4 separate regions of the Homo sapiens genome follow, and regions 1, 2 and 3 are each linked to region 4. Evidence: fine-mapped expression QTL. A gene starts in region 4. Each other region holds a variant in brackets. All regions are shown on one strand. Distances are from middle to middle.

Region 1 (8,094 bases), 92 kb after region 4:
TTTTCAAAATACACATCGCAGCTTAGACTCACAAAATATTACCAAGTAGAGAACTTTCACTTTTTATTCAGTACATAGATGACTATGATTTATTAATTTCCTCCGCACTTCAGTCTTCTATAGGGCACTGTGTTAGAGAGTGGGTTTGTAATTAACTTATCAATTACTGAGTTGCAGATGAATCCTTCTAATGGACGCAAAGTTACTCTTTAAAGCATTCCCTCGATGTGTTATTAATTTACAGGGTAAATCCCCTTTGTAGAGAGCAAAGGAAAACTCCTGCTCAGCCCACATCTGAGCGGTCGCATCCCAAACTAAGGGACTCAGGAAGAGCCATGAGGCTGAAGGTGCATTAAAATGAGGAAGTGGGCTGTGTCCAGAGAGCTGCTCTGCTGGACCTGGCTTCCAGCCTTAGCTTGCCTCTGCTGCAGGAGAACTGTGCCAGGGACGTGGGATGACCGACTGGCCCCAAACTGAATTCCTCATCCAGATTTCTTTGGGTCTTTGCAGGGTTAGGCCATCTGGCCCGGGTGGCTTCTTTGCACTCTGCTGTTTGCTTGGGTTTGAACTCTTACTGTGATCTCATGATCACAAGTTTTAAAAGTATGTTGAAAATGACATGAAAATAATCCCTCCCCGAGCGCATTTCCCCTTCCTGGCTCGCCCCTGCCCTTTCCCCACCTTTATACTCTTGTGGCACCTGTCCACCTGTCAGTGCCCCTCCTCACGGTCCACTTCAGGTTTTCTCAGAGCACTGGCTGCGTGGCGAGGAGCATGGGTAAGGCCCCGGTGCCCATCTTCAGCCTGGCCTTCTAGACTGTGGGGAGTCAGGCCCCATCTTAGCTCCTAGCTCTCTAGTCCTGTGCTTCCAGAATGAGACCCCTGCTCCAGCCAGGCCAGCGCCATCCTCAATGTGCCACATTCATTCCTGACCGGGGACTGGCACTAGCATCCCCTCTTCCTCTCCTGTCTTGCCATGTCCTTTTGAAAAACAGTCCTACTTAACAGAAGCAGCCTTACAAACTATCTGCCTCTCATTGAGCATCAGAGCTCTGGCCCTGAGCTTGTACAGAACACAGGGTCTGCATCTCATTTTTTTTTTTTTTTTTTTTGAGACGGAGTCTCGCTGTCTCCCAGGCTGGAGCGCAGTGGCGCGATCTCTGCTCACTGCAAGCTCCGCCTCCCGGGTTCTCGCCATTCTCCTGCCTCAGCCTCCCGAGTAGCTGGGACTACAGGCGCCCGCCACCACGCCTGCCTTTTGTATTTTTAGTAGAGACGTGGTTTCACCGTGTTAGCCAGGATGGTCTCTATCTCCTGACCTCATGATCCGCCCACCTCGGCCTCCCAAAGTGCTGGGATTACAGGCGTGAGCCACCGCACCCAGCCTGCATCTCATATTTTCATACCGGCACCGCCCAGCACTATTGCCTCCCCAGATTGGCAGCAATTTGGAAGCAGGAAGTAAGCACTGATAGCTGAGTAATACTTACCACTGTCATGGCTGAAGTTCTTCGTTAGCCTGAAAGGCAGTATAGGTAGAGCACAGGGGTTCTCACATGCCAGCATGCATCAGAATCTACAGGAGACCTGATGAAAACACTGAGCACTGGCCCCACCCCCGGAGCTTCCGACTCAGTGGGTCGAGGGTGGGGCCTGAGAATTTGCATGTCTAACAAGTGCCCAGAGCAGCGGAGGCTGCTAGTCCTGGGACCACACTTTGAGCACCCTGGGGTAGAGGTTTAAAGAGTATGAGCTTTGATACCACCCACCCAGGTTTGAATCCTGGTGCCAAAACTTCCTAACTGGGCAAGAGGTTTGAGCTCCTTAGGGCCCCATATTCTCCTGTGTAAAGGGAGTAAAATCATGGTACCTATCTTACAGCACTGTGGAGGTCAGGTGAGATAACGCATCATAGCAGTGTTTTGCATGTAAGAGAATATTATAAATATTAGCTGTTATTAATAACTATTTTGGTAGGACAGGAAAGACATTGTGATATGGTCACAAAGTGGCGCAGGAATGACACGAGCTGCGCTCCACCTAGTGCCACCTCAGCTCCTTTTGTTGCCCATGTAATTTGGGGCAAGCTACTTAAAATTATTTAAGCCTCAGTTTCTTGATGCACAAAATGTAGGCAGTAGTATTTGTCTTCTCTCCCTCTTGGTGGTTGTGAGATTCAAATGGAAGGATATTCCGAAGGAATTTGTGTGAAAGGCATGTCCTGGGTATTACAAAGAGCTCATATGTGTAGTGTTTGTTTATGTGCAAAATGCTGCTAAGCATGTCTCTGCCAATACCTCATGCACCATGTAGAGTGAGTAGAGGCCGTTATGCCTTAGGGAGCTGGGGGGAGCCCCTGGGTGGACCTGCTGCCCTCCACCAAAGGCCCTGATTATTCGCTGCGGCTTCCCAGTCTCCCCCTGGGGCTATTTGTTTCAGTGATCTGATTTTAGCTGCCTGCCTGCCCTCTTCTAGAAGCTTTTGTCCAGTCTAACTTTGGGCCAAACTAGAAGTTGCCAGGCTAGTCAAAAGAAAATCGATAACCAAGCTAGTGTAATATACTGAATTTCATGTGCAATGTTCACTAAGTCCTGTCGGCATACAGATACTTGTACATTATGAGCATCTCATGGTAACCTTTTCATTTTCAAAATAGTATGCAAGTTGCCTTTAATTTTAAAGAGTTCACTTCATAGTTTGCAGCCTCAGTTTTCACTCCGTAAGATAGATATTATAACCTTCTCTTGGTGATTATTTCCGTGTGTCAGTGTTCCTGGCATTTTGACACTGCCCATGCTCTCTGTGGGGATGAGGCCTGTTGGGAGCATGAAGGAGGGTGTAAGGATTTTCAGCTCCCAGTCAGTCATACATTTGCACGATGGTTATCATCTCTTCGCTGGACTCACTGCTCTGACATGAATATTCCCTGTTTGTGTTATGTGAGCATTAACCAGGTCTTCATGATCACATTTCTTACCCTTACACCAGCACTGAGACAAAAATGATCCCAAAGCAAAGAGAGAACCATATTCTGCTCACTCCACAAAGTAGGCCTGGCCTTCCTTTATTATTCCCAGCACCTACGGACGTGCTGAGAGAGAGAGATTGGCCGGTTTGGATGGTTTTTGCCTGGATTTGTACCCGAGTGTACTCTTGCTCTGTGGGTTCCTTTCAGGCTTAGGTCACAATAGGTGTTGGTTTGGCCTCACTCCGGTCCTTTGTAGACATCTGCCCACATCACAAAGCCCCCATGTTTGGCACAGCCCGCAGCAGTTGGCACTGCCTGCCCGGGAAGAGTCCAGTCCTGGAACAGCGGGGGTTGCAGGTGCATTGGCACGTGGTGGTGGGGAGCGCACACAGGCCTTGCCTACCCAGCGCCTGGCGACGCTCAGCAACACCGTCCCATCCCTGAAATATCTTGGCCTCGTGGGCTTGTCACTCCAATTAAAACTTAAACATGAAAGCGGCTCAGGCTGCTTCTCCCTTTGTGCTGAATTTGAGCATGGACGGTGCCAGAAGCATGTCGTGGAGACTGTTAAGGGGTGCCATGTTGCAGGGAACGTTGAGGGGGTCAGGGATCCATTTCTTCAAGATTTGCATCTTGCCGGTTGCTGCTGCGAAGTGCACCTGAAAGGCAAGCTTCTGTTTGCCAACAGAAAGTCACCTTTGGGATGGTGGTGAAAGTCATTTTCCACATGTTCACAGATACGGCCGTGTTACCAAGCCTCACGCTATGACTTATCTCTGGCAAGGACTTACAAAATAGTCTCTCTGGCTGATTGTCAAAAATTACATCATATCGGAGTAAACTGCTTTTAAATCAGACATCCATTATTCATGTATATTAACTGCATTTTTATTTTTTTATTGGCTGTTTTGTGTATGATTTACTCTTTTGTCACTGGCTCCCCCTCTCCCCAGTTGTCTATCTTTCTCATTCCTGTTTTTTTAAAGTCTTAGCTCATCTGTGAATTTATAGAGACTGTTCACCTAGCTTTGTGCATGAACGTTGATAGGCACACCTTGCATTTTTGTAGTTCAATTCCACGTTTCTGTGGATCTTACTTTTGTTGGGTCAGAATAGCAATGTGGGTCGTTTATGTGAGTAAATTCTACCATGAAGATGTATAGGACTTTTTCTTTTGTATCTTTTGTTTTTTAAAAAGGAGCATCACTAGTCTTGTATGTGAAGATCTGTACTGAATAAAAGTGTACCTGGCACTTAGCAAACAGCTGTATACATTGCAGTTGGTGGACAGCAAATCGACTTTGTGTGTTCATTTGTATGCGTGAAGCCTGTCTTTACTGTAAGGCCAGCATAGCAGTCGCCTGTAAGGGGTAGATACACGCAGACATGTACAGTGTGTATTCATCTGCTCATTCTTTCATCACCTGTATACTGAGCCCCTC[C/G]TATGTGCCAAACACTGCACAGGTATCCAAAGGAGCTTCTGTTCCTTCCAGACAGTGCGGGGGGCGCACCCTGGGCATCTGGCATCTTCCATGGTTATGGTACTTTTTCCTGATTCATGGCATTTGACTGGTTGGAATAAAGACTAGGTACAGATTATTCTATGTATTTAACCCCCAAATCAACATTGTTTTTGCAGACAGCATCTGGATTCTTTTATGCTCATTACTTGAATCTTTGTTGACTATTTCTTCCAGCACCTCAGACCTTTTTTCTGGAATGATTTTCTGTCTCCCAAAAGTGCATTCTTTAGAAGTTTCTTTCATAAGGACTTGGTCACAAGTGTTTTCCGTGTTTCTTTCTTACAGCACCTTCATTTCATCCTTATCCTTGAAAGGTAGTTTTGCTAGTCTTTTACAGTTCTAGCTTGACAGTTATTTTTGCTCAGCCTTTGAGGATATGACTGGTTTTGCCTTCCACTGACACTACTGACGAGTTGGCTGTCAGTCTGTCATTCTCTTTTAGGACTTTCTCTCCTTTTGACTGCTTTTAAGATCTTCTCCTTGTCTTTAATTTTCTGTGGTTTCATGCCAATGTCTCTTTGTATGTCTGGGATTTATTTATTTATTTTTATACTGTCTGGGATTTCTTGTGTGTCCCTCCTTTCAGTTGTAGAGAATTCTTGGCCCTTATCTTACTGGAAATGTATCGCGATGCTCTGCGTGGAGCTCAGGGGAGGTGTGCATGAAGGCAGCTTCTCCCCTCCTCCGTGCTGCTCACTGCCCATTCAGATTTCCCATCTCTCTGTCTGTTGCATTCCGCCCAATTCCTCAACTCGGTATTCCAGTCCACAGTTTCTCTCTCGGACTTATTTCTTGCTTATCTCATCCATTGACTTTTTAATTTCTAGAAATTCTCTGCTTTATTTTTCAAATCTGCTTAATCCGATTTCCTACTTTTTATCCTCTCCCTCTTTTATCTGTAAACATTTTCAGCATGCTTATTTTGTATTCTTTATTTGATCTTGCCTGGAAGTCTAATTCTCCTTGTTTTTCTGTCTCACATATGATATATCACTTCTTGCTGTATTTGGATTTTTTAAATTGTGAGCTAATACTCAGTTGATCTTGATTTGTAGGTTTCTTAAAGGGGCCTGAGTTGAAATTGTTTCCCTCCTGAGAAGATTCTGCCAAGGTACTGGGAGGTATGTTACCAACCCGAAAATACTTTATTAGGCTTGGATTCTTTTAGCCTTGCAGGTGGTGTAAACTCAAACCCAGAACTTGTGTGGGGGCAGACATGTGACTTCAGACTGTTTTCCACCCCGAACTGAACCTGAGGCAGACACGTTTCTGGGTAAGCTCTCTGCACCAATAGATACTTTCCCCATCTTGCTTGCTTTTTACTGAATGTATGTAGCCCTGCAGGGACCCAACTGTAGGTTCTACTTCATGCTGGGCAGATGCTTGGTCTCCTGTTTCCCCAGCTCTCCTGTTTCCCCAGCTCTCCAGGCTCCTGACACTGGAGGGAGGGTCCAAACTAGCCCCTGGCTTGAATGCTCTCTTAACTTCCTGGGTTTCGTGCTCTCTTCATCTGGGTTTCATGCTGTCTCCATTTTGGGCTCCTGTGAATTTCTCTGATTGCTTATTAAACAGAATGTCTGAAGGACTGTTTGATGATAGGCTGAGTCTTATCCAGCATGGTCACTGTTTGTAAATGGCAAGGTTTTCCAGACATTCTTGTCTGCCATGTTGTCAGAGGTGGGACTGTCGGACTGGATGTAGTTGGGGCACTCTGGCATCTGAATAGTATGAAGAGATCTCTGTGGAACCATCTTCTGTTTTGGGTAGGATGGAGCAGTTCCTTTGTACATACCAGCAGCAAGATCCAGGAGTGGAGGAAGGTGTTAAAGCACTAAAAGCAACATCTGAGTATCTTTGGGGTCTGAGACTATAGGAAGCTCTGGATTTGCCTGGCATCGTGTACCAATCAGTGAGCCTCCAAACACAAATGCAGGCACTTAGTGAGATGCGGGAATGTGTAACTGACACTGTACCTGGCATGTACTGCCCTTTAATAATTGCCACATGAATGAATGAATGATAGGATCTCTGTCCCCAGGAACCTTAGAGTTAGGAACCTTAGAGTTGAAACCTAGGAGAGTGTTACAACGTGTAGTGTGATGCGGTGTGGTGCTTGGTAATAGTGCTGCAGAGCCTCCCCTGACCTGCTGGAGTCACCGCCTCCTCCCCTCCAGTATCTGAGAACCACAGATCTGGGGAAGAGCCGGAAGAAGATAAGACACAGGTCAGGGTGACCTTGTCGAAACACCACGTGATGCGTGCAGACAGCAAGGACTGTCAGCACTGACCAGGGGAATGGGCACTATGTGCCAAGGACATCATGGAGAAGAGAGCACAAAGGCAGCTGGAGTGGACGGAAAAGAAGAGAGCAGGCGGTTTAACTGCCTCACTGCCCAGCATCTGGCCTCTGATCACAACTTCCCTGTTCAGAAGAGCCAAGAGCCACATATGTGAGGCAGGTTACTAGGGATCAGAAAAGAAAGTGGGTAGATGGTATCATCTTCAGGAAGTGTAGTCACATCTTCCTCTCGTGCCTCTTCTCTTATACTCCACTCAGCCCAGCACAGCACCTCCTAACCTTTGGCTCTCTTTGCCACTGCCCTTTTTTAAATGGCGGCCAACAAATCATCTTCAATTGAAAAAGCTTTTAAAATGCTATTGTCTTGTAAGGAAGCCTTCCGACTCCTCCTGGGCTCTCTGGACAGACAGTGCTGGGCTTCTGGGGAGCTGAGCCAGCTGCTGGGGTGGCTTAATGCCTGGTGGTGGTTTAATGCCTGTAGCAGGTATTTGAGTATGAAGACTCAGTATTTTGGTAAAATTAAAACACAGAGTTCCTTTCCTCATTCATCAGTATAGGACCAAAATTCTGAGAGGGTAAGGCTCTATCATCTCTTCACAGTGATTTCAGTATGCAAGTGGTTCATGATTAATTATGAGGGTGATAGCCCCCAATTTAGGAAGAGCTTGCAGTGTTAATCCATTTCTTACTGGGTGAAGGAAGAAGTTGGTCTGCCTTGAGCTCACCCCGCCTCCCACCCCCACAGGGACAAGAGCCATCTCTCAGCTCTTTCCTTCACAGTTTGCCTGGAAAGCCAGTCCAGGCCACACCTGGATGCTGCGGGGCCCGCCTGCCCACGGCGGTGGCTGATGCCTCCCAGTTGTTGGGCCTGTAGCTGGTGTCTCCTTCCTGACTCTGGACCACCGCCCCTGCTGCTTAGGACACCAGCTGCCAGGACATGGCTAGAAGATGATCGGTGGGTCTCCTCAGAGAGGCAGGCCCCGTCTATGGAGGAGCAGGACAGCTGACGGTCAGGCCCCAGCTGGGGAAGAGGTGGGCTCTGTCAGCTGGCAGCAGGCTGGGACTTCTGCATGTCACCCAGCGTCCCTGCACGTTCATTCCAGTGCCTAGAAGATGATTGATAAATATCTGTTGGCCAGCTCTTGAATGAATCACAGCATTATTTATTTTATCTAAAAATTATAAACAATCCATATGGAGTTGTGTATCCACAGAGAAATTCTACACAACCATTAAAAAGAACAAGATCTATCTATAGGTATTGACACGTAGGGAAAAGGAGTTGTGAAATAATCCCATTTAGG
Region 2 (8,094 bases), 66 kb after region 4:
CATGGGAGCCAGTTCTCTCATGCTTGGAGAAGGAAGGCTCAAGTACGGAAAGGGGATGGCCAGAATGAACCCTGTGGGGCTGGATTGGAATAGGAGGCATCGGTGTGGAATTTATGGTGTTAAATATAGATAGAGAAGTAAACAGAGATGTACATGTATGTCGTATGTATATATGTTTATGTGTGTCCTGGCTTTGTTTGCTGAGAAGGTGTAAGAGCATCAACAGCCCAGCTGTTGAAAGTATCACTATCTACTAAAAGGAACCAGGGATGCTTGGAGAAATGGTGGACTCCAGGGATGGGGCAGTGAAACCACACAGTAAGCCTGGACCATCTGATTGCACTGAAGTGAAGAAGTGCTTGAAGAATGATGACAACATGTCACAAGGACACATAAGTGAGCTTGAAGATGTTCCCACTGGCCAAACCTGGGACAACTGGAGTATCAAAGTCAATATTGATAATAACAGGTTACAACCCATTGAATAAAATAGGAATATATGAGTATATCATGATAAAAATAAACAGATCAATAAATAAAAAGGGAGGAGAGAAAAGTTTCCTTATAGTAGAATGTCAACTAATAAATGCAGAAAGCATGATGGGATTAGAAAATTACACATTGGCAACCATCACAGTAATAATTGATTCAGACAAAAAATCAATTGAGGCTAAAACCAGAGGATAAGAATGGGATGAGGGATGGGGTCTTACATGGTCTCAAAAAATCTCCCCACTAAACACTTACTAATTAAAAGGCAGGAAAAGATAACTCTGCAGTCAGGAAATCTAACAGGAACCGTCTTAATAAAGTGATCACATTTAACATCATCAGTAATGGTAGAATTGATAACCTGTGCCATGTGACACGATGCAGTGAGAAAAAACACAGAATCACTTCTTTGATATTATTCCAGCCAAAAGTGCACAGCCTGATCTAATCACGAGAAAATATCACACAAGCCCAAACTGAGGGACATTCCACAAAATGACTGGCCTGTCCTCTTCAGCACTGTCAAGGTCATGAAACTCAGGGAAGGTCTTAAGAACTATTCCAGGTGGAAAGAGAAGAGAGACCTGACAATGGAGTGCAGTGTGTCATCCTGGCTTGGGTTGTTTTTCTACAAAGAACATTACTGGGACAGTTGGCAATGGGATCTGAACAGTGAGTATATAGAAGTTCTTGCAGCTTTTCTGTAATTTTGAAAGTTTCAAAATAAAAAGATAAAAAATAACGTGTTTTTGAGAAAGATGAAGTAACAGGAACTGGATTTATCTTTCCACCTTAACTAGAAAACCGGACAAAATATATTAAACCATGGTTTCTAGACATTGGAAAATAAGTAGCCCATGGCTGTGATCTCTTGGAGGAGAACAAACATGGTGAGGCCCACAGTTACACCAGCTCACCAGCTGGAAACTCCAAACAAGGAGGGGGACCTAAACAGAGTCTGGTGGCCTCCCTGACTTGAGGAGGCCCCAGTGAGGGCTCAGGGAAGCCAAGGTGGATAGAATTTGTGGGCCAGAGTATTGGGGAAGAGGGAGCTCCCAGAGGGAGAACCCCAGGGATTGGCTGAGGATTCCCTCGAGTCTTTGGCTGAGTCCTACTCTGCACATGTGTAAGAGGAAATACCTGGATCAGGGAAAGAACTACCTGAAAGGAGAAGGCACAACAATTCCTGGAGCTCACATGAGGCTAAGAATAGTTTGCACTTCCCCAAGAGTAAAAAGACCTCGTAATACATGGATTGTTGAGTGGAATCTTCAGAAGGGTACCATGTTTTAGTAATGGGGCTAATTCAGCCCTAGACTAAAAGCTGCTCGGGATCCCCTAAAAAAAGTTGGAAAGCAAGCCACAAAAGGATCCAGCCGATTCTGAGTGTCTTAATTTTGCATCAGAATAAACTTCCATACTATTTTGTAGAATACAACAAAAGCTAGCAACCAGCAATGTAAAATTCACAATGTCTGTCATCCAATAAAAATGAAGCATGGCTGAGGCAGGAGGATCACTTGAGCCTGGGAGGTCAAGGCTCCAGTGAGCCATGATCATGCCATTGCACTCCAGCCTGGGTGACAGAGTGACACCTGCCTCCAAAAAAAGAATATATTGTGTACCCTGGTAACAGTAAGCACAGCTAGTGCCCAGATTTTGGTTTCTAAATGTTCTTCAATAAAAGGAACAAGGGCTAGGGCAGATAAATACAAGATGAATCTGGAACATTTTATGGGACCCAAAAGTAAGGATGTTTAAAATAAATAAAAAGATGAAGGTAGGGCATCTATAGGACAGTAGAACTAAATTGGAGCTCCTGAGGGCTAAAGGAAGGACAACTTGAGCAACAAAACATGATGATAGTGATGGACTATAACCTATGGATAATTAATTACCCATGAGTCCATATTGGTATCAATAAATACTTGAATAAATAAAGGAGAAGAGATAGCTCTTCCTTACAGTAGTAGTTGAATTGCTGTATGGGAAAGGATGATGAAAATAGAAAGCCACCATTTGGCAAGCACCGTAATCATAATTGTCGTAGGCAAGAATCACCAGCGGATGTTAAAATCAATGTGATGAATGTCTCTGTCCGTTTGGGCTGTTATAACAAAACAGTATAAACTGGGTGACTTATAAACAACAGAAGTATATTTCTGACATTTCTGGAGGCTGGAAAGTCCAAGATCAGGGCACTGGCAGATTCTATGTCTGGCGAGAGCCCTTCCTTCCAGGCAGTGCCTTCTCTCACATGGTGGAAAGGGCAAAGGAGCTCTCAGGCACTGTCGTCATGACCTGATCACATCCCAAAGGTCTCATTTCCTGGTACCATCACTTAGGGGGTTAGGATTTTAACACTGAAATGGTGGTAGGGGGGACACAACATTCAGATGAGCAATGAGTAACAGGACATTTGCATGGTGTGAAATTATCACTCCGTAAGAGAAAAACAGTAACTTTACAGTAGAGAAAACTGGCAGATACCACCTTAACCAAGTGATGATAGTTAACATGGCCAGTAATGAAACTTTGATATTATGTACCTCCTGATACATAATGCACTGGGAAGGCACAACACCTTCTGATTTTAAATATGAGGAAACAGCAGACAATTGAGAGGCCTACACAATAAATGAGCAGTACTTTTCAAAAGTGTCAGGGTCATGAAGGACAAGGAATGACTGAGTAATTGCCCCAGATTGGAGTCGATGAAGGAGACATGGCAGCTAGATGCTATGTGGAATTCTGGATTGGATCCTGGACCAGAAAAAATATGCTGGTAAGAGGACAGGTTAAATGCAAATAAAATCTGTAGATTAAATATGTTGCATCAGCGTTAATTTCCTGGCTTCCATCATTCTGCTATGGTTATGTAATAGGTTAACATTTGGGAAAGCTGGATGAAGCTATAACTGGAACTCTTTGCATAATTTTTATAACATTTTTGTAAGTCTGAAATTATTTCAAAATCAAAAAAGACTATCAAATTACAGGATTAAATAAGACTGGATTTTTCCCATAGCAATTTAATGCCATTTAAAAACAATGTTACATGATTACTTAGAAAAGAATGTGCTTGCCGCTTTTCTGCTGTCTGGCTGACTTGGAGGCCTGAGATTAGATGGTACCCTTGTGTTCTTTTGGTGGTGGTTATAATCAGGGATCCTCAGCATTTCTCTTTTTTGTATCTTGCTATTTGTCTTCAAGCTATTCCCCACCTGCACCCTCCCCTTTTCTT[TA/T]AAAAAAAAAAAAAATGCATGATGATGAGTACCTAATCTTTGGTATTTTGTTTCCAAAGGATCCTTTTTTTTTTTTTTTTTTTTTTCAAAACAGAGTCTCACTCTGTTGCCCAGGCTGGAGTGCAGTGGTATAATCTCAGCTCGCTGCAACCTCCACCTCCCAGGTTCAAGCGATTCTTCTGCCTCAGCCTCCTGAGTAGCTGGGATTACAGGCATGCACCACCACACCGGCTAATTTTTTTTTTTTTTTTGTATTTTTATTAGAGATGGCGTTTCACCCTGTTGGCCAGGCTGGTCTCAAACTCCTAGCCTCAAGTGATCTGCCCTCCCTCAGCCTCCCAGAGAATACTTTTTAAAGAATAGTGTAGCCATTTTATTTTAAAATGTCAACATTTACAAACATGCCAGATGTTACGTTTTTGCCACTACTTACAACTTAGGACAAAAAAAATTTATCGGTTTCATATATAAAACGGGAAAGGCAGGCCTTGTTTTTCAAAATCATTTCAGGGGGTAATCAAAAAAGTCTGAAGAGCACTGGTCTGGAAGGCAGGTGGCCATGTGAGTCTCCGTCTCTATTGGGCTCTTGTGATCCACTCTGGGCACAGGGGAGGGAGACCCGAGAGCCCCACCCCAGACATCGGGGCCTTGTGGCAAAACCATCTATTTGTTGGGGGGATTTGCATTGGTATCTGAATGCCCAAGTGAGATGTTAGGCTGTCTGTGGTTTCTGTCTTCTCATTCTTATTTGGTGTTAGGTAACTCAGAACCGACTGCAGTTTCGCCATCATTTAAATCTTTATGTAGACTTTTCCCCCTGCTTTTTATTTGAGCCATTTATTACTTTCCTTGAAAGGGAATTAATTGATAGTATAATTTTAAGATTTTTTTTTCAGGATTTGGAATGGGATTTCTAAAGGCTGCAAAATGTCATCACTAGAATTTTCACCGTAGATCTGAGAAGACACTTAGTCTGCAGTGTGGCTGTTGAAAACGTTTGTAAAACACAAATTAACGTATTTTTACTTTTGTTAGTGATAGCCTTTCAAATGGTTATTCTTAAAAATCTTTTATTGTGAAAAATTCAAAATACACAAAAATGGAACGAATAGCATGATGCACCCCCGTGTACCCATCACTCAGCTTCAGTAGTGATCTTTTTTTTTTAATCTACTACCACCCAGTCCACTGATTCCCCACTCCCCTCCTTAGAGGCATCTGCTACTACCAGTGTCTGCTGATCTCTTCGGGATAGAGTCTATATCATGTGTATATCGGTTATAGAGAACACTGGCCTCAGTCTGAGGCTGCATGCACAGTGATGTCTCTTTCACGTTACCTGCCCTCTGGAACTTTCCCTTGTAGAAGCTGGTCCAAATTCTTTGCCTTCTCCATCAATCTGTTTTTCCTAAGATGTTAACTGGAAATTCTTCTATCTAGTCACATTGCCATAGTCTTAACAATATACTATTTGCCTCCTTTTCAGTCTGCTGTCTCGTCATTTTTCATTCTTCTTTTTCAGGTGTTCTTTCTGCTTTGAATTTGAGAGCTACTAAATATATTCAATCTTACTTCCTCTTCTCTTGACTCAGTTTCTATTTTGGTGATCTCGCTGCTTTGTTTATGCCCTAACCAGTCGCCTCCTCCATAAGCCTATTCAGATTCTTTTACTTGTCAATCTAAAATGCAGATTCCAGAATGTTTTCTGTTTATTTTCTGCCTTAGGCAACAGAGCTGTAGCGCTGTGGTCAGCGGGAAAGCAGGATGGCATGCCACAGTAGCTGCAGTAACAAGAAACTTCAGCCTTTTTCCTTTTTCGTGACCCTCCGTGGTTTAGCTGTTCTTTATGACCCTTGTCTACACTGATACTAATCTCCCACCGGCACCTCTTCCATGAAGAGCAAAAACTTTTGTCCTGTCCAACTTTATGCTAGTTTTATGTCTCTGGCCTGCATTTCAGAGTGGTGATGTGTGGACTTAATGAACAAAGAGGTACGTGTTAAGTCAGTGCTATGGGTATATTTAAAATTTTTGTCAAAATGCCTTTTCCTTTGTTGCAGAATTTCTTTTGACTCCTGATTAATTTCTGATAGGCAAGTGTTTATTTACATGGTAGAAATTGAGATTGCCAGCTGTCTTTATTATAAATAGTCAACTTCATTCAGTATCTCTGAACGCAGTTAATTGATCCTGTCTATTTAACGATCATGAAGTTGACACCAAGCTTCAGGTGTTTATTGTGGAAGCTCAAGAGGATGGGAGCTCGCGGCTGAAATAATTTCTAATCAAGAAACCACTAAAGACCACAAGACCAGCTCTGTAGTTGAAGAAGGGACTAGTCTATGACCTTTCGAAACTGTTAACCTGTTTTAAATTTTGTGGTGCATGGAAAAGATCAAAGGGGAGGGAAGAGTATACCAATTGTGTTTTTTTTCCAAAACCAGTTCAGCAGTTATTTACCTTTCAGGCAATTAACATAATTACCATTATGCTAAAAAGTAATTTTGGAAAGTTCTGCCCTGAGCTCTTATGACTCCACCGGGACAGTTTTAGTTGGGACTTATCTTTTTGATGGAAGCTTAATTGCAATTTTGGCTTTGTGCACACAAACAGAAGCAGCTAATTGTTTAGGCAAATAGCAGATTAATTTAAATATGCATCCCTAATAAAACAAAAATGGTATCCATTATGGTCCTTGTTCCCATGACGAAGAATATAAATATTCTGTGCAAGTACCATTAGACAGAGGTCTTAAGGATTGTCGACATTATTTCACAGTGGTAGCACTTTCCAGATATCGAGTAATCTTTACAAAAGCTAACATAAATCAGTTTAAACTCATTTAGATCCCATTTCCACTATGTGCAGTTTCATTACCACACTCTGGCTGGCCTCCTTAGGGAGGTGGGAGGGGCCTGCTGCAAACTGGCATGGGTGCCCATCCACAGCTGCTGAGCAGGCTTTATGTCTCCTCGAAAGACTGGCCATCGTTACTCATGTCATCGTTAATGGCTGTTACTGGTCTAGGCTGAGCTCAGAGTTCCTTCAGCCTGGCTGCTGCTTGTCAAGGTGGAGGGTCCTGAGCCCAGGGAGCAGGTGGGAGTGCCAGGCCCTGCCCCTTCTCCTTTATTGGGCCAGTGGTCCTCACTTGTCTTCTGGATGTTTCAAGAGACCCAGTTTCTTCTTTTGTCTGCATCCTTTTCCTGTTTGTTATGAGTGAAACAGTATTGTTGCAATCCCAGCACTACTCAGAATTAATCATCTTTTATCCAGCTATTGAGGTTTGGTCAGGAAGGAAGAAAAACACCTGCTCTTTCTGTTTCTCTAGTGTGGGGCAAAATGGGGGCTATAAACTCTGGCCTTCAGGATGATGCCTGGTGCAGGGAATGGCAAAAAAAAAAAAAAAAAAACACTTGCTTCTTATGCCACTGCCAAGAAACCAAGTAGAACCTCCCTTTGTGTTTGCTGAGACTTTTTCTCTTGTTTTACCTTGGCCTACTGTGCAGGAGAGAAGTCGTAGAGATCTTTGGGCAGGGGGTTGTCTCCTTGCCCTGAGGTCCCTCCCCAGGCCCTCTCCAGGTGGGCATGTTCATAGTATTTGAGTTAGTCTTTTGGCCTCAGCTAATTGGATGAGGGATGGGGCCCCAGTTCTTGGGGGAAGCTGATTCATGGACTGGGATGGGCTGGTTGGGACTCAAACTTTGTTGCATTCTTGGAGTAGAAGACCTCCTGGAATGGGGACAGCCACCTTTCTCCATGTACCCAGGGATGAGAGAAAGCTGGTTTCCGAAAAGAAGAATGAAATAGAATTGCAGAGAGAAGCAGAGATAAGATCTGTGGTGCACACAAGTTACATACACTACCTTGGTTCTGCATGTCTTCCTGGTTCCTGGTTCTGATCCCTTATCACCTCCAGCTGTACTTCCTGCCCTTGGGCTCCATGAAGTAGCCTCATTCCTTTCCAGTCAGTTTCCTTTTTATGTTTAAGCCAGTTTCAGTGGGTGTCTGTTTCTTACAACCAAATGTTCCATTGCTGAAACATATGACAAGCATTAAGCAAACCTTTATTGATGTACAGCCACATCCAGCACTGTGAATTCCTTACCATAGGGCATAGAGAGGGAAAAGGACACAGTCTTGCCATTTCACAAGTTCACAGTGTCAGGAGCCAAATCCATTTCATTGCTAGGTCCGCAGTATGATAACACTTGACCTTTCAAATGAATTTATATCAGATTTAAAAAAAAATACCTATTTGAGAAGTGAATTTCCTTGACCCTGACAGGCATTAACTACTTCTTCCTTAGTAGTTATGCAATAAATGCAGACTTGGTTCAAGTTAAAACATCTAGAAAAG
Region 3 (8,094 bases), 23 kb after region 4:
ATTTTTCTTTTTTTAAAAATTTCATTTTATTTTTTTAAATGGACAAATAAAGTTATATATATGTATCAGGTATAACATGATTTTTGAAATATCTATGCATTGTGGAATGGCTCAGTTGAGGTAACTAACATGTATTACCTCACATACTTATTTTCTGTGGTGAGAACACTTAAAATCTATCTCTTAGTGATTTTCAAGTATACATCATTAACTGAAGTCACTGTGTTGTACAGTAGAGCTCTGAACTTATTTCTCTCATCTAACTGAAATTTTGTATCCTTTGACATCTTTCCAGTGTCCCATCCTGCCCCGCCAGCCACTGGTAACCGCCATTCTACTCTCTACTTCTATGAGCTCAACTTTTTTAGATTCTACATTTAAGTGAGATCATGCAATATTTGTCTTTCTGTGGCTGGCTTATTTCACTTAACATAATGCCCTCTAGGTTCATCCACCATGTTGTTGTAAATGACATGATTTCCTTCTTTTTTTTTCTAAAGGCTGAATAGTATTCCATTGTGTATACATGCCACATTATGTATCATTTATCTGTTGATTCTGTATCTTGGCTGTTGTGAATAATGTTGCAATGAGCCTGGCAGTACAGAGATCACTTTGACAAACTGATTTCACTTCCTTTGGATGTATACCCAGCAACCAGAATTGCTGAATCATATGGTAGTTATATTTTTAATATTCTAAGGAACCTGTTTCCTTAATGGCTGTGCTAATTTCCATTCCCACTAACAGTGTGCAAGGGTTCCCTTCTCTCCATGTCTTTGCCAGCACTTGTTTTGTCTTTTTGGTAATAGCCATTCTAACAGGTGTAGTTTAATTTGCATTTCTCTGATGATTAGTATTGTTGAGCATTTTTAAATATACCTATTGGCCATTTGTATGTCTTCTTTTGAGAAATGTCTATTCAGGTCCTTTGCTCATTTTTAAATTGGGTTTTTTGTCTTCTTGCTATTGAGTTGTTTGAGTTCCTTATGTAATATTTTGGATATTAACTGCTTATGAGATATATGGTTTGGAAATATTTTTTCTCTTTTATAGGTTGTCTCTGTATTCTGTTGATTGTTTCCTTTGCTGTACAAAAGCTTTTTAGTTTGATGTAATCCCATTTGTCTGTTTTTGTTGCCTGTTCTTTTGGGGTCATATCCAAAAAATCATTACCTATACCAGTGTCATGGAGTTTTTCCCCTAAGTTTCTTTCCCATAGTTTTACAGTTTCAAGTCTTATGTTTAAGATTTTAATCCGTTTTGAACTTATTTTTATTTTTTTTATTGAGACAGAGCCTCACTCTGTTGCCCAGGCTGGCATGCAGTGGTACAATCGTAGCTCACTGTAGCCTCAAACTTTTGGGCTCACGTGATTCTCCCACCTCAACCTCCCGAGTAGCTGGGACTATAGGCTCACGCCAACATGCCCAGCTAACTTTTAAATTTTTTGTAAGGACAGGGTCTTGCTTTGTTACCCAGGCTAGTCTCGAACTCCTGGCTTCAAGTAAGAGTTCACTTCTTTATAATAGTGTGAGATGGGATCTAATTTCATTCTTCTGTATGTGGATATCCAGTTCTCACAACACCATTTATTGGAGACTTTTTTCCCCATTGTGTGTTGTTAGCACCTTCATTGAAAATCAGTTGACTGTAAATGCACAGGCTTATTTCTGGGCTCTCAGTTCTGTTTTACTGGTCTATATATCTGTTTTTATGCCAGTGACATGCTGTGTACATTGCTATAGCTTTGTAGTATATTTTGAAATGAGGTATTGTGATGCCTCCAGCATTGTTCTTTTTGCTCAGGATTGCTTTGGCTATTTGCAGTGTTTTGTGTTTTTATGCAAATTTTATCTTTTTTTTTTCCTGTATCTGTGAAAATGTCTTTGGAATTTTTATAGAGATTGCATTTCACTCACTTTGAGTAGTATGGACATTTTGATAATATTCTTCCAATCCATGAACATGGAATATCTTTCTATTTATTTGTATCATCCGTTTTCTCCTTAGTGTTTTATAGTTTTCAGCATACTGGTCTTTAGCTTCCTTGGTTGAATTTGTTCCTAAGTATTTATTTTTGGTGTGGCTATTGTGAATGGGGTTATTTTCTTGATTTCTTTTACAGATAGCTTGTTGTTAGTATATAGAAACTCTACTGATTTTTGTATATTGATTTTGTACCCATAACTGAATTTGTTTATTAGTTTCTTGGTGGAGTATTTAGGGTTTCCTATGTTTATGTTTATATTGTCTGTAAACAGGAACAGATTAACTTCCTCCTTTCTGCTTGGATGCCTTTTATTTCTTTCTGTTGCCTAATTGCTGTGACTAAGACTTCTAGTACTATGTTGAATGGAAATGGTGAGAGTGTGCATCCTTGTCTTATTCCTGAAGAAAAGCTTTCAACTTTTTACTAAGTATGACTTTAGCTTTGGTTTTGTCACATGTGGCCTTTATTGTGTTAAAGTACATTTCTTCTATACCTCATTTATTAAGAGTTTTTATCATGAAAGGATCTTGAATTTTGTCAGATGCTTTTTCTGCACCTGAGGTGATCACATCGTTTTTCTCCTTCATTCTGTTAATGCATTGTATTACATTTATAGATTTCTGTTGATTTTTCGTAAGTTAAATGGGTGTATGATTGCTAACCATTTGGCCTTTGATGGACAACTGTATTCTCTAGGAGACACTGGAGTATCCATTCTCCATAACTGCCAAAAAATTAGTTTGTTTAATGGTTAGCATTTTCATCCCTGGATTCTATACTGCATTTTACACAGGTGTTTACAGCTTCAAGAGCAAGGGTTTGCAAAATTCACTGGTAGGAAAACTGAACATAAAATTCAAAGCACCAGCAAGACTATGAAGTTCAGCATATGAAGGCGGTTTGAGAGTGGTGAAAACTGTACCCAAATTTAGACTCTGGAGCTTGCTACCTCCATGGCAGTTCAGTGAAATCACACATGATACAGGACCATTTAGACAGTTTATGGTGTTCTACTCTTTCTTTTTCTTTGACGGAGTCTCGCTGTCACCAGGCTGGAGTGCAGTGGCGCGATCTCGGCTCACTGCAACCTCTGCCTCCCAGGTTCAAGCTATTCTCCTGCCTCAGCCTCCCAAGTAGCTGGGACTACAGGTGCGCCACCATGCCCAGCTAATTTTTGTATTTTTAGTAGAGACGGGGTTTCACCATGTTGGCCAGGATGGTCTCCATCTCTTGACCTCGTGATCCACCTGCCTCGGCCTCCCAAAGTGCTGGGATTACAGGCGTGAGCCACTGTGCCCAGCCGTTCTAATCTTTCTTTGTGAAGCATTTTGCTTAATCGTTTTTCTACTTGAATATGAATTTGAAAGAATTTTCAATATTCTTGATTATTGTTGTTAGTATTGCTTAAGTGGGGGCATTGGCAGATATTTTTTGATGCGGAGTGTGTGTCTTTAGGAAATGATGGAAATTATTTAAAGGCTAAAATTCACTTAAAAAAAATGTGCTGAAGTGTAAACTGTGCTCAGAGCCTATGAGTTGCATTAAGCATGAGTACCTATATTGTTTTCTTTCCCCTTGGAAATTTGATTTGTTATATTCTAACTTTACACATTGGCCTGCTCCCAAGAGTTGAAAACAAGAGTGTAGCTAAATGAGGCCAATTCCTGGATTTCAGCCTGATGCTGTTAGCCGAAGTCTTGGAACAGGGTCTAATAGCTAGCTGCTTTACACAAAGTCAGCATTAGATGATAAAATCTTCATTCTTGATAGCGAGCTGCTGTTTAAGAAATCATTTCTTTTAACATTGCTTTTTGCTCCCCTGCTTTGTAGAGAGCCATGTGGCTTTCACATCTGCTGCTGGTTTTCTCATCCAAAGAGTTTATCAGAGAAAGATAGAATCTAGTGGAAGAAGAGATCCCCTTTTGGTACAATGGGGCTGCATTACAGGGTAGATTGGTTATGCTGGTGATATTATTCTGCAGGTGTGAACAGTTTAATTTGCAACACAGTAGTCCAATTGTCCACCAGAATTCTTCCCTCTATGGCCAGTTGGATTTGGCTTTTTGTTGTTGTTGTTAACCCAGTTGTTAGAGCACATATATAAGAATAGAAAATATTCTTAAACAGAACCCCGTTAG[C/T]GTACAGTGACTAAGTTAGCTGTGATCTGTGAAGTCAGGAGTTTTATGGAGCTCTTACATGAGAATGACAATAGATGGCCAGTAGTTTGTAGAATTGGCTTTGTTTCATCAATCATTAAAATTAAAACCACAAAGTAATAAAAATAAGTAGCACTTTCATTTGTTTCTTGGGGTGTTTTTATTTTGAAACAGGGAGGAAATCCTTCTGTGGAATGTCCTGCTGCTTTATGATTTTATTTTAGAGGGGCTTGCTTTTTTTCTCTCTCTCCATCTCTCTTTTAATCTAGGTGCCTTGGGATTTTAGTGAAATTGGGCCAGTTATGTGGAATTGGCACCATGAACTAAATGTATGCCCTTGGAGAAAACCTGTTTGCTTAGATCTTTATGCCAAATTGGTAACTGACTAACAGTAAGAAACTCTGTTACTGGGAGGCCTTTGAGATTTAATTATCCCACAAACCATGCCGGAGACTGATTTTGCTTTGACTTTGCCTCCTTTCCATATCCCCTCCTCTTTTTTTTGCTTTTGAGGCTTTATGTTTTGAAAACTGAAGTCCTGCTACATTAGTTTGTGATCTGTGTGTACTTTTGATGCTGAGGTCTCCAGCTCCTTCCTTTCAATAGTTGTCCCTCGAGGGACTTAATCTCTCTGTGGGAGTGTTTCTTGCCGAAACATCTTGAAAACAGTGTAGCTTTTAGTAAGCAAAGTTACTTGTTGGACAGTTCATTGAACAGGTTTGTAATCTTGCTATTTATAATTTTATGTTCATCTTTTTTTGTGCCCACAGGATTCCTGGTATTTAAAGGAGACAATTTTTTAGTCGATAACAATGATACAGTTGTTGGTTTCAAAATTACAAATTGGTTTTTAGGAGAAAAGTAAGTCTGCCATTATATTACAGTGTGAATAATTCTGAGGAGTGATGGCTTTTAGGTATTTACCAATATTCATTTTTTAAACTTTAAAAATTATTATAAATTCATAGGAAGTTGCAAAAAATAGTACAGAGAGTTCCTGTGTACCCTTCCCCCAGTTTCCTCCATTGGTAATATCCCGCATAACTACAGAACAGTAGCAAACCAGGACCTGACATTGGCACAATTCACAAATCTTGTTGATGTCACTAGTTTTACATGCACTTATTTGTGAATCTATGGAACTTTACATGGATGTAGATTTGTGTGACCACCACCGCAGTCAACATGTAGAACATTCATCACGAGAATCTCTTGTGCTACTCTTTCACAGTCTTTGACGGCCACACTGGCCTCAAGTCCTTCCCCGACCCTTTCACCCCCAGCTCCATCTCTAACCCCTGGCAACCACTGATCTGTTCTCCAACTCCATAATTTTGTTTTCAGTTTTTTAATGTATATTTTAGTGCTTTGTATTTCCTAATATGTAATTTTAGGAATTTAGCTGCATAAGTAATGATGTCATGTTTATCAAGTAAAAGATAGAAAAACGTGCATAAACAAAGTAATAAAGAAAAAGAGGGAAGATGCAGAGGTTAAAAACTTGAAATTTATGATAATATTGGTGAGCAAGAAGTAGTTGACAGCAAAATAAATAAGTAATTCTAGAACCAAAGACCAGCATATTAGATTATGGTATTTCAAGTTTCAAGGAAAATGTGATTTTATGTCCATGTAGGAGAAACTAAAATCCAGGTGCTTATAGCTAAAGATCTATAATCTTAATGAAGTCTGTGTGAGTCAGGAATCCATAGCCAAGTGAGGCTGAATTGATTTTCCTGGCAAAAGTGATTCTGCAGACCTGTAGTTGCTGGCAGGGTTCCCTTAGTTCTTCACTTTCACCCTTGCCGCCAGACTTCTCTTATCAGGAAGTTCTGTGGAAGGTTCCTTGTATGCTCAAGACCCAAGTGCCCTCAGGAGTTCCTTTTAATTCATGTGATTGTTTTGGCTGCCTCCTTTAAGCACAAATTTAGGGAAAGGCAAAATCACTCTAAAAAACAGATTGGGAGCTAGATGAAACAAGAATGGCAAATGAACATTGAGCTAAGTGGTGGGTACTTTGGAGTTCTTTATATTGTTCACTTTACTCTTGTGTGTTTGAACTTTTCCACAATTAAAAAGTTTACTAGAAAAAAAAGCATAAAGCAAAATAATACATGTGAATAAGAAGGAGCCTACGGAGGGCAGCACATGCCAGGAGCTGAGCTGTGTCTATGACCTTTGAGAATTAAAAGCAATGCTAATTTTTAAAAAAAAGTTGGACTTACACTTTTATCTCATTTGGTTATTTATATAGAGCTGACTATGTATGTGCGAGGTACTGTTCTATATAGTGAAGACAGCTGAGAATAAAACATAAAAAACCAGCTTCTCAGAGAGCTTCCATTGTATATACAATAAAGACATGATTAAATAGAGTTATCAGATGGCAGTGAGTGCTATGGAGAAGAACAAGACAGTAGAGGTGATATGGGGGTTGCACTTTTGAGTGGCCAGGGAAGACTTTGCAGAGAAGGTGAGCTTTGAGCAAAGACCTGAAGGAGGGGTGAAGGACACTGTGCAGATCTCTGGCAGAGTGGAATAGCAAGGACGAAGGACTTGAGGCAGACACAGCTGAAGCTCATCTGAGGCAGGGTGCGCCTGTTGTGTTTGAAGAACAGCAGGAAGGTCCAAGTGGGTGGTTGTCGTACGCTGAATAATGGCCCTCCCAAATATGCTGACGTCCTAATCCCTGAATCCCACCAGTATGTTACCTTTCATGATAAAACGCCCTTTGCCGATGTGATTAGGTTAAGGATCTAGAGATGGGGTGATTATCTTGGATTATACAGGTGGGTCCAGTGCATTACAAGTCTTGTAAGAGGGAGGCAGGACGTCAGGGAGGAGAGAAGATGCTGTGTTGCTGGCCTTGAAGGTGGAGGAAGGGGCCACAAACCAAGGAATGTAGGTAGCTTGAAGCTGGAAAAGGTAAGAAAACTGTTTTCTTTCTGAAGCCTCCGGAAGGAATGCAGCCCTGCCCACACCTTGCTTTTACACTTCTGGTCTCCGGAACTATAAGCGAATAAATCTGTATTGTTTTAAGCAGCTAAGTTTGTAGTAGTTTGTTAGCGCAGCCATAGGAGACTGATACGGGGATGTGGTGAGCAGAAGGATAAGAGGAGGAGAGGACTCAGGATGTGATAAGCGTTTAATCCATTAAAAGAACTCGAAGTTTTGTGAATAAGATGGGAAGCCTTTGGAGTGCTTTGAGCAGAGGGGTGACAAGGGCTGCCCTACGTTTAAAAAGGGACCATTTGGGCTGCTGTGTGGAGAATCGGTTGTTGGGGGACAAGGACAGCAGCAAGGAGACCAGTTAGGAGGCCACTGAAGTAATCCAGAGAAGAGGATGTGGTGCTTGGGCCAGGATGGCACCAGCAGAAGTGGACAGAGTCAGGATTGTGGATGGGCTGGATGTGGGGACAGAAGGAAGAGAGTCAACAAGGGCTCCATGGTGTTTGCCTTGAGCAACTGGAGGAATGAGTTCACTGTTTACCGACAAGTAGCAGACCATGGAAGGAGCATGTGTGGGTATGGGGGAAGATCACTCATTGGTTGTGAGGTTGAGGATGAGCTCTTCGTTGAGCTCTGGGCTGAAGATGGAAATTTGGAAGCTGTCAGCCACATTGATGGTATTTAAGGCCAGGAGACAAATGAGAACATTAAGGAAGTGAATGTAAATAGAGGAGGGGTTCAGGGATGGAGCCCTGGTGCTCCACAAGGATTAGAGGCCGTGGACATGAGCAGGGCCAGGCAGAGGACCGGGAAGGAGTTCCCTGCCAGGCAGGAAGAAAACCCAGATGTGTCGTTCCTTGGGACCATGGGATAAATGTTTTCCAGGAGGAGAAAGTGATCAAAGGTGTTAAGCGCTGTTGTTCATCAAGTAAGAGGAGGACTGAGAAATGACCATTGGGTTTTGCAAGTTGGAGGTCACTGGTGACCTTGACCAGG
Region 4 (5,000 bases):
AGACCCCATTTTTTTTAATTCCAGTTTGCTTTCTGTTTTAAGTGTTAGATGGTCCATAAAATCTAGAGATACCAGAAAAGTGATATTTGGCTTTTGACTTGCAAGTAGATAATCAAAGTAAGTATGACCTTTGGATTTCACATGGAAGGCACATGGGATGAATGGGATGCTAGCGGAATGGGGAAAAATTAGCTCGTTTTTATTTTTATTACAATAATATTTATTGGCAGCAGCCACTGATGAGCAGCAGCCATGTTTCTGTGGTCTCCCATGTCTGTGGGTCTCAGTGAGGGCCACAAGGTGAGGACCAAGAATGTGAGCAAGCATGGCCACTGCTGCCACCGCAGGCACCCCACCAAGCACAGAAAGTTCGTGTGGGACATGATGTGAGAGGTGTGTGGCTTTGTTCTATATAAGTGATGCACCTTGGAATTGTTCAAGGTCTCCAAGAAAAAGTGGACCCTCAAGTTCATCAAGAAGAGAGCGGGGACACACATCTGCACCATAAGAAGTGAGAGGAGCTGGGCAATATCTTGACCTCCAGGAAGCGAATGGCTGCCAAGAAGAACTGAGACTTCTTCCCCTTCTGTGTATAATAAAACCTTTACGGAAAAAAAAGAGAATGCTTACTTGTATTGGATGCTTATGTTCCATCTTGCATCACTTCACTCATCTTTTACCTTAGTCACTGCTGTAGCAACTGGCTTTGTGCACGTGTAACCTGACAGTCGTTCCTGTTAGCTGCACAGTGTACCTCCTGCTTTTTGCCCCAGAGCATCTCTGCTGCCTTGGTACGGAACATCCATGATAATCCGTTTACTTATACCCAATCTAGAAGTGGGAGGTTGTTAAAGCTCCTTGGCTTAGCCTTTCTCTAGTAGGGGATGAGAGTCACTGGACAAATGCTTTCCTCTTCTGGCTCTTATCTCTTGGGAGGACAATTCTGAGCTGTGTTCTAAGGCTCCTTAGAAGGTGCTAATGGAATGAGCCTAAATTGCCACAGTAGGACCAACTCAGAGATGCTCTTTCTTTTTTTTGTTTTTTTGAGACAGAGTCTCGCACTGTCGCCCAAGCTGGAGTGTAGTGGTGTGAATATACGCCCAACCATATACTCTAATTTTCTACAGTGAAGGTTGTCCAAGCCTGGTTTCCCACAGTAAGCAAGCCTGAGCCCTGGGTTTGTAGGCAGCTAGTTTATTTACAGAAGTGATTCTAGAGAAGAGGCCTGAGAGACTAAGAAGAGTTAGACAAGGAATAAGGGACAGTTAATTGCAAGAGCATCTTTGAGCCTGGAGTGGTGGCTCACACCTGTAACCCCAGCACTTTGGGAGGCTGAGGTGGGTGGATCACTTGAGGTCAGGAGTTCAAGACTAGTCTGGCCAACATGGTGAAACCCTATCTCTACTAAAAATACAAAAACTTAGCCAGGTGTGGTGGCGGGCACCTGTAGTCCTAGCTACTCAGGAGGCTGAGGCAGGAGAATGGCGTGAACCCGGGAGGCGGAGCTTCCAGCGAGCCGAGATCGCGCCACTGCACTCCAGCCTGGGCAACAGAGCGAGACTCCGTCTCAAAAACAAAACAAACCAAACAAACAAACAAACAAAAAACCATTTATTGAGCATGTATTAATCACCAGTCTCAAAGCTAAGAGTTGCCAATCTAGAAGGGAAGGGATATATATATATACATAAAAATAAAATTACAAATTGTGTTATGTATTATGATGAGAAGTACAGGATGCTGTGAGAATGAGTAACAGGGATACCTGATGTTTCTTGAGTGGAGGTTGGAAGATTAAGTGAAATGTGAGTTGAGATATGAAAGATGTGTAGGAGTTAACCAAGTCAAGGTGGGGGGAAAAGTTCCCTGCTGAGGGAATATCAGGTGCAAAGAAAACATTTTTAAGTGGAACGCCATCGTATGTCATTTTCTTTCCCATCTTAAAGCCCTTGGATTTCCTTCTGGAAATCTCTCTCCTAAGATCTGACCTTCCCTTGGCTGGTTTCTCTTTCAGATTTTTAAAAAAAAATTTTTATTTCCACAGGTTATTGGGAACAGGTGGTATTTGGTTACATGAGTAAGTTCTTTAGTGGTGATTTGTGAGATTTTGGTGCACGCATCACCCGAGCAGTATACACTGAACCCAAGTTATAGTCTTTTATCCCTCCCCACCTTCCCACCCTCCCCTCGTCCCCCTCCCCTGTTCCAAAGTCCCATAAGTCATTCTTATGCTTTTGCATCCTCGTAGCTTAGCTCCCACTTATATGTGAGAACATACGATGTTTGGTTTTCCATTCCTGAGTTACTTCACTTAGAATAATAGTCTCCAATCCCATCCAGGTTGCTACGAATGCCATGAATTCATTCCTTTTTTATGGCTGAGTAGTATTCCACCATATGTATATATCAGTTTCTTTATCCACCTGTTGATTCTCTTTTAGATTTTAATTTAAATAACATCTTAAACAGACTTTCACTATCAATCCTTACTCCCCTTACCTTACCTTATTTTGTTTTCTTCCTAATACCTATCACTGATTTAAATGTTCATATTTCTTTGTTTAAAGTCTCCCTACTTAAACGCATGCTCCAAGACGTCAGAGTTTTTGTTTTGTTTTACAGATTTAAATGCTGAATTCTTGGTGCCTGGCATATAGTAGTTGCTGAATGAATGTTTGTTGAATGAAGGAACAATGCTTGGCGCAAAGTCAGAGCTTAGCAAAAGTGATAGGCAGCAGAGCTGACGGGCTGAGGGGCAGCTGCGTAAACCTCTGCTTTGGGCGCCACAAGCCACAAGCCGGACCACCACGTGCGTACAGGGGCAGCGCCGGGGGCGTGGCGGGGGCGTGGACGCCCACCCGGAACCCTAGAGCGGCGGCGGCAGCGGCTTCCGGCCGCGGCGGACACTTCCCTGGGCGGGACTGTCTCGTGGCACCCGGTGGAACCGAGGAGAACGTGGAGCGCCGGGAGCGGCGAATATGGACGACTACAGCCTGGATGAGTTCCGTCGGCGCTGGCAGGAGGAGCTGGCGCAGGCCCAGGCGCCGAAGAAGCGGCGACGGCCCGAGGCTGCCGAGAGGCGGGCTCGGCGGCCGGAGGTGGGCTCCGGGCGCGGCGAACAGGCCTCGGGGGACCCGGCGCTGGCCCAGCGTCTCCTGGAGGGCGCGGGGAGGCCCCCGGCGGCGCGGGCGACTCGGGCCGAGGGGCAGGACGTAGCGAGCCGCTCACGTTCTCCTCTGGCCCGCGAGGGCGCCGGGGGCGGGGAGCAGCTGGTGGACCAGCTCATCCGCGACCTGGTGAGTGGCCGTCGCCTCCCCCCCGCCCATGCCTGCGCCGGCCCCCGCCCCCAGGACAAACCCCTGCAGTGATTTGGAGAGTAACTGTGTGCCACTAGTTGCCCGAGAAAATGAGTAGACGCACAAACACCAATGTTTGTGCTTGCATAGGGGTCTTTCTGGAAGCAGCACTTCCCAACCAGGGCGATTTTGTTCCCCCAGATGTGGCAGTGTCTGCAGACATTTTTGGGTGCCTCATCGGGGTGTGTATGTGTGCATGTTACTGGGCATCTAGTGGGTAGAGGCCAGAGATGCTCCTGAACATCCTACAGTGTACAGGACACCACGCACAAAAAAATTATCCAGGACAAAATATCAGTAAGTGTGGGGTTGAGAAATCCTGCTCTTGAAGGCTACCTAAACTTTGAACAAAGGTTGCCTTTGAAAAGGAGGACCCAGATGATGGATAGGAAGTAATTTTACCTTTGTATACTGTTTGCACTATTTAATTTTTGTAACCGTGCACGTATTCAAAAAAATTATCTCAGAAAAAAAGGAAGAAGAGGAGGAAGAATCTCCTGGGCACTTTCATTAGGATAGAGTTTCTTATCTTTTTGTGGGGCGTGGATACCTTGGAGAATCTGGAGGAAGCTGGGGACCCTGTGTCCGTTAAAAATAATCCCCTTCAGAAAGTTGGGAAAATCAAGAACACCTGAAATGCATCCGTGGCTCCCAGGTTAAGAGGACAAGGCTCCAGGTTCTAATGGTTTGATTTAAATTAGGCCCAAAGGAAGTCCCTACAGCTTTACAATTGGGAACCCACTTTTTTTTTTCCTGTTTTTTTTTTTTTTTCTTTCTTTCTTTCTTTTCTGAGACAGGGTCTTGCTCTGTTGCCCAGGCTAGAGTGTACTGTTGCTCTCCCGGCCCACTGCAGCCTCAAACTGCCTGGCTCAAGCCATCCTCTTCCCTCAGCATCCCGCGTAGCTGGGACTACACGCATGCGCCACCACACTCAGCTAATTTTTTAAATTTTTTGGTAGAGACAAGGTCTCCCTGTATTGCCCAGTCTGGTCTCAAACTCCTGGGCCCAAGTGATCCTCCCAATTGAGAATCATTCTTTTTTTTTTTTTTTTTTTTTGAGACGGAGTCTCGCTCGCTCTGTCGCCCAGGCTGGAGTTGCAGTGGCGCGATCTCGGCTCACTGCAAGTTCCGCCTCCTAGGTTCACGCCATTCTCCTGCCTCAGCCTCCCCAGTAGCTGGGACTAACAGGCGCCCACCACCACGCCCGGCTAATTTCTTTTTGTATTTTTAGTAGAGATGGGGTTTCACTGTGTTAGCCAGGATGGTCTCGATCTCCTGACCTCGTGATCCGCCCGCCTCGGCCTCCCTAAGTGCTGGGATTACAGGCGTGAGCCACCGCGCCCGGCCGAGAATAATTCTTTTAAGTGGCAAGCTGTTTCAAGAAATAATGGCCTATTATTTTATGTAATATGTAGTTTACTCAAATAGCATTAATAGCTACTATTTGAGTTTTTACCAAGTGTTTAGTCCTGTGCTCTGCCCTAATTCGAATATAACAATCCTGTGAGGTAGATTTTAACTCTCCTTTTACAAATGAAGAAACTCAGAGATTCTCTGTAACTTGCCCAGCATTACCCCACTGATAGATTCTGGGGATTGAATTTGGATCCAGGTCTTTTCAACTCCAAGTTTCACCACGTGAAC

What was found. PIP is the estimated chance that this variant, and not a neighbour inherited with it, causes the effect. A credible set is the group of variants that fine-mapping cannot tell apart.
Region 1: its variant is the best candidate, but not a certain one, in a credible set for the expression of FBXW8 in esophagus mucosa (GTEx, PIP 0.51).
Region 2: its variant is the best candidate, but not a certain one, in a credible set for the expression of FBXW8 in whole blood (INTERVAL, PIP 0.67).
Region 3: its variant is the best candidate, but not a certain one, in a credible set for the expression of FBXW8 in whole blood (INTERVAL, PIP 0.66).

Annotation. Positions count from the first base shown.
Region 1 is chr12:116,998,890-117,006,983 of GRCh38, forward strand. All of the region lies in intron 7 of FBXW8 (F-box and WD repeat domain containing 8), which reads left to right. Among named protein-coding and RNA genes, the nearest start is that of FBXW8, 92 kb to the left of the region's middle. RefSeq lists an enhancer at 7,130-7,652. The variant C/G (reference allele first, on the strand shown) is at 4,411.
Region 2 is chr12:116,972,650-116,980,743 of GRCh38, forward strand. The region is part of intron 5 of FBXW8 (F-box and WD repeat domain containing 8); the gene reads left to right. It overlaps LOC100506551 (a long non-coding RNA gene), which reads right to left. Exons shown (of 4, transcript NR_103809.1): 3 at 7,601-7,770; 4 at 4,791-6,940. Among named protein-coding and RNA genes, the nearest start is that of FBXW8, 66 kb to the left of the region's middle. The variant TA/T (reference allele first, on the strand shown) is at 3,737.
Region 3 is chr12:116,929,537-116,937,630 of GRCh38, forward strand. All of the region lies in intron 2 of FBXW8 (F-box and WD repeat domain containing 8), which reads left to right. Among named protein-coding and RNA genes, the nearest start is that of FBXW8, 23 kb to the left of the region's middle. The variant C/T (reference allele first, on the strand shown) is at 4,132.
Region 4 is chr12:116,908,060-116,913,059 of GRCh38, forward strand. FBXW8 (F-box and WD repeat domain containing 8) reads left to right here and starts at 2,891. Exons shown (of 11, transcript NM_153348.3): 1 at 2,891-3,296. The coding sequence starts at 2,979. It also overlaps the pseudogene RPL36P15. RefSeq lists silencers at 2,719-2,938, 3,099-3,358.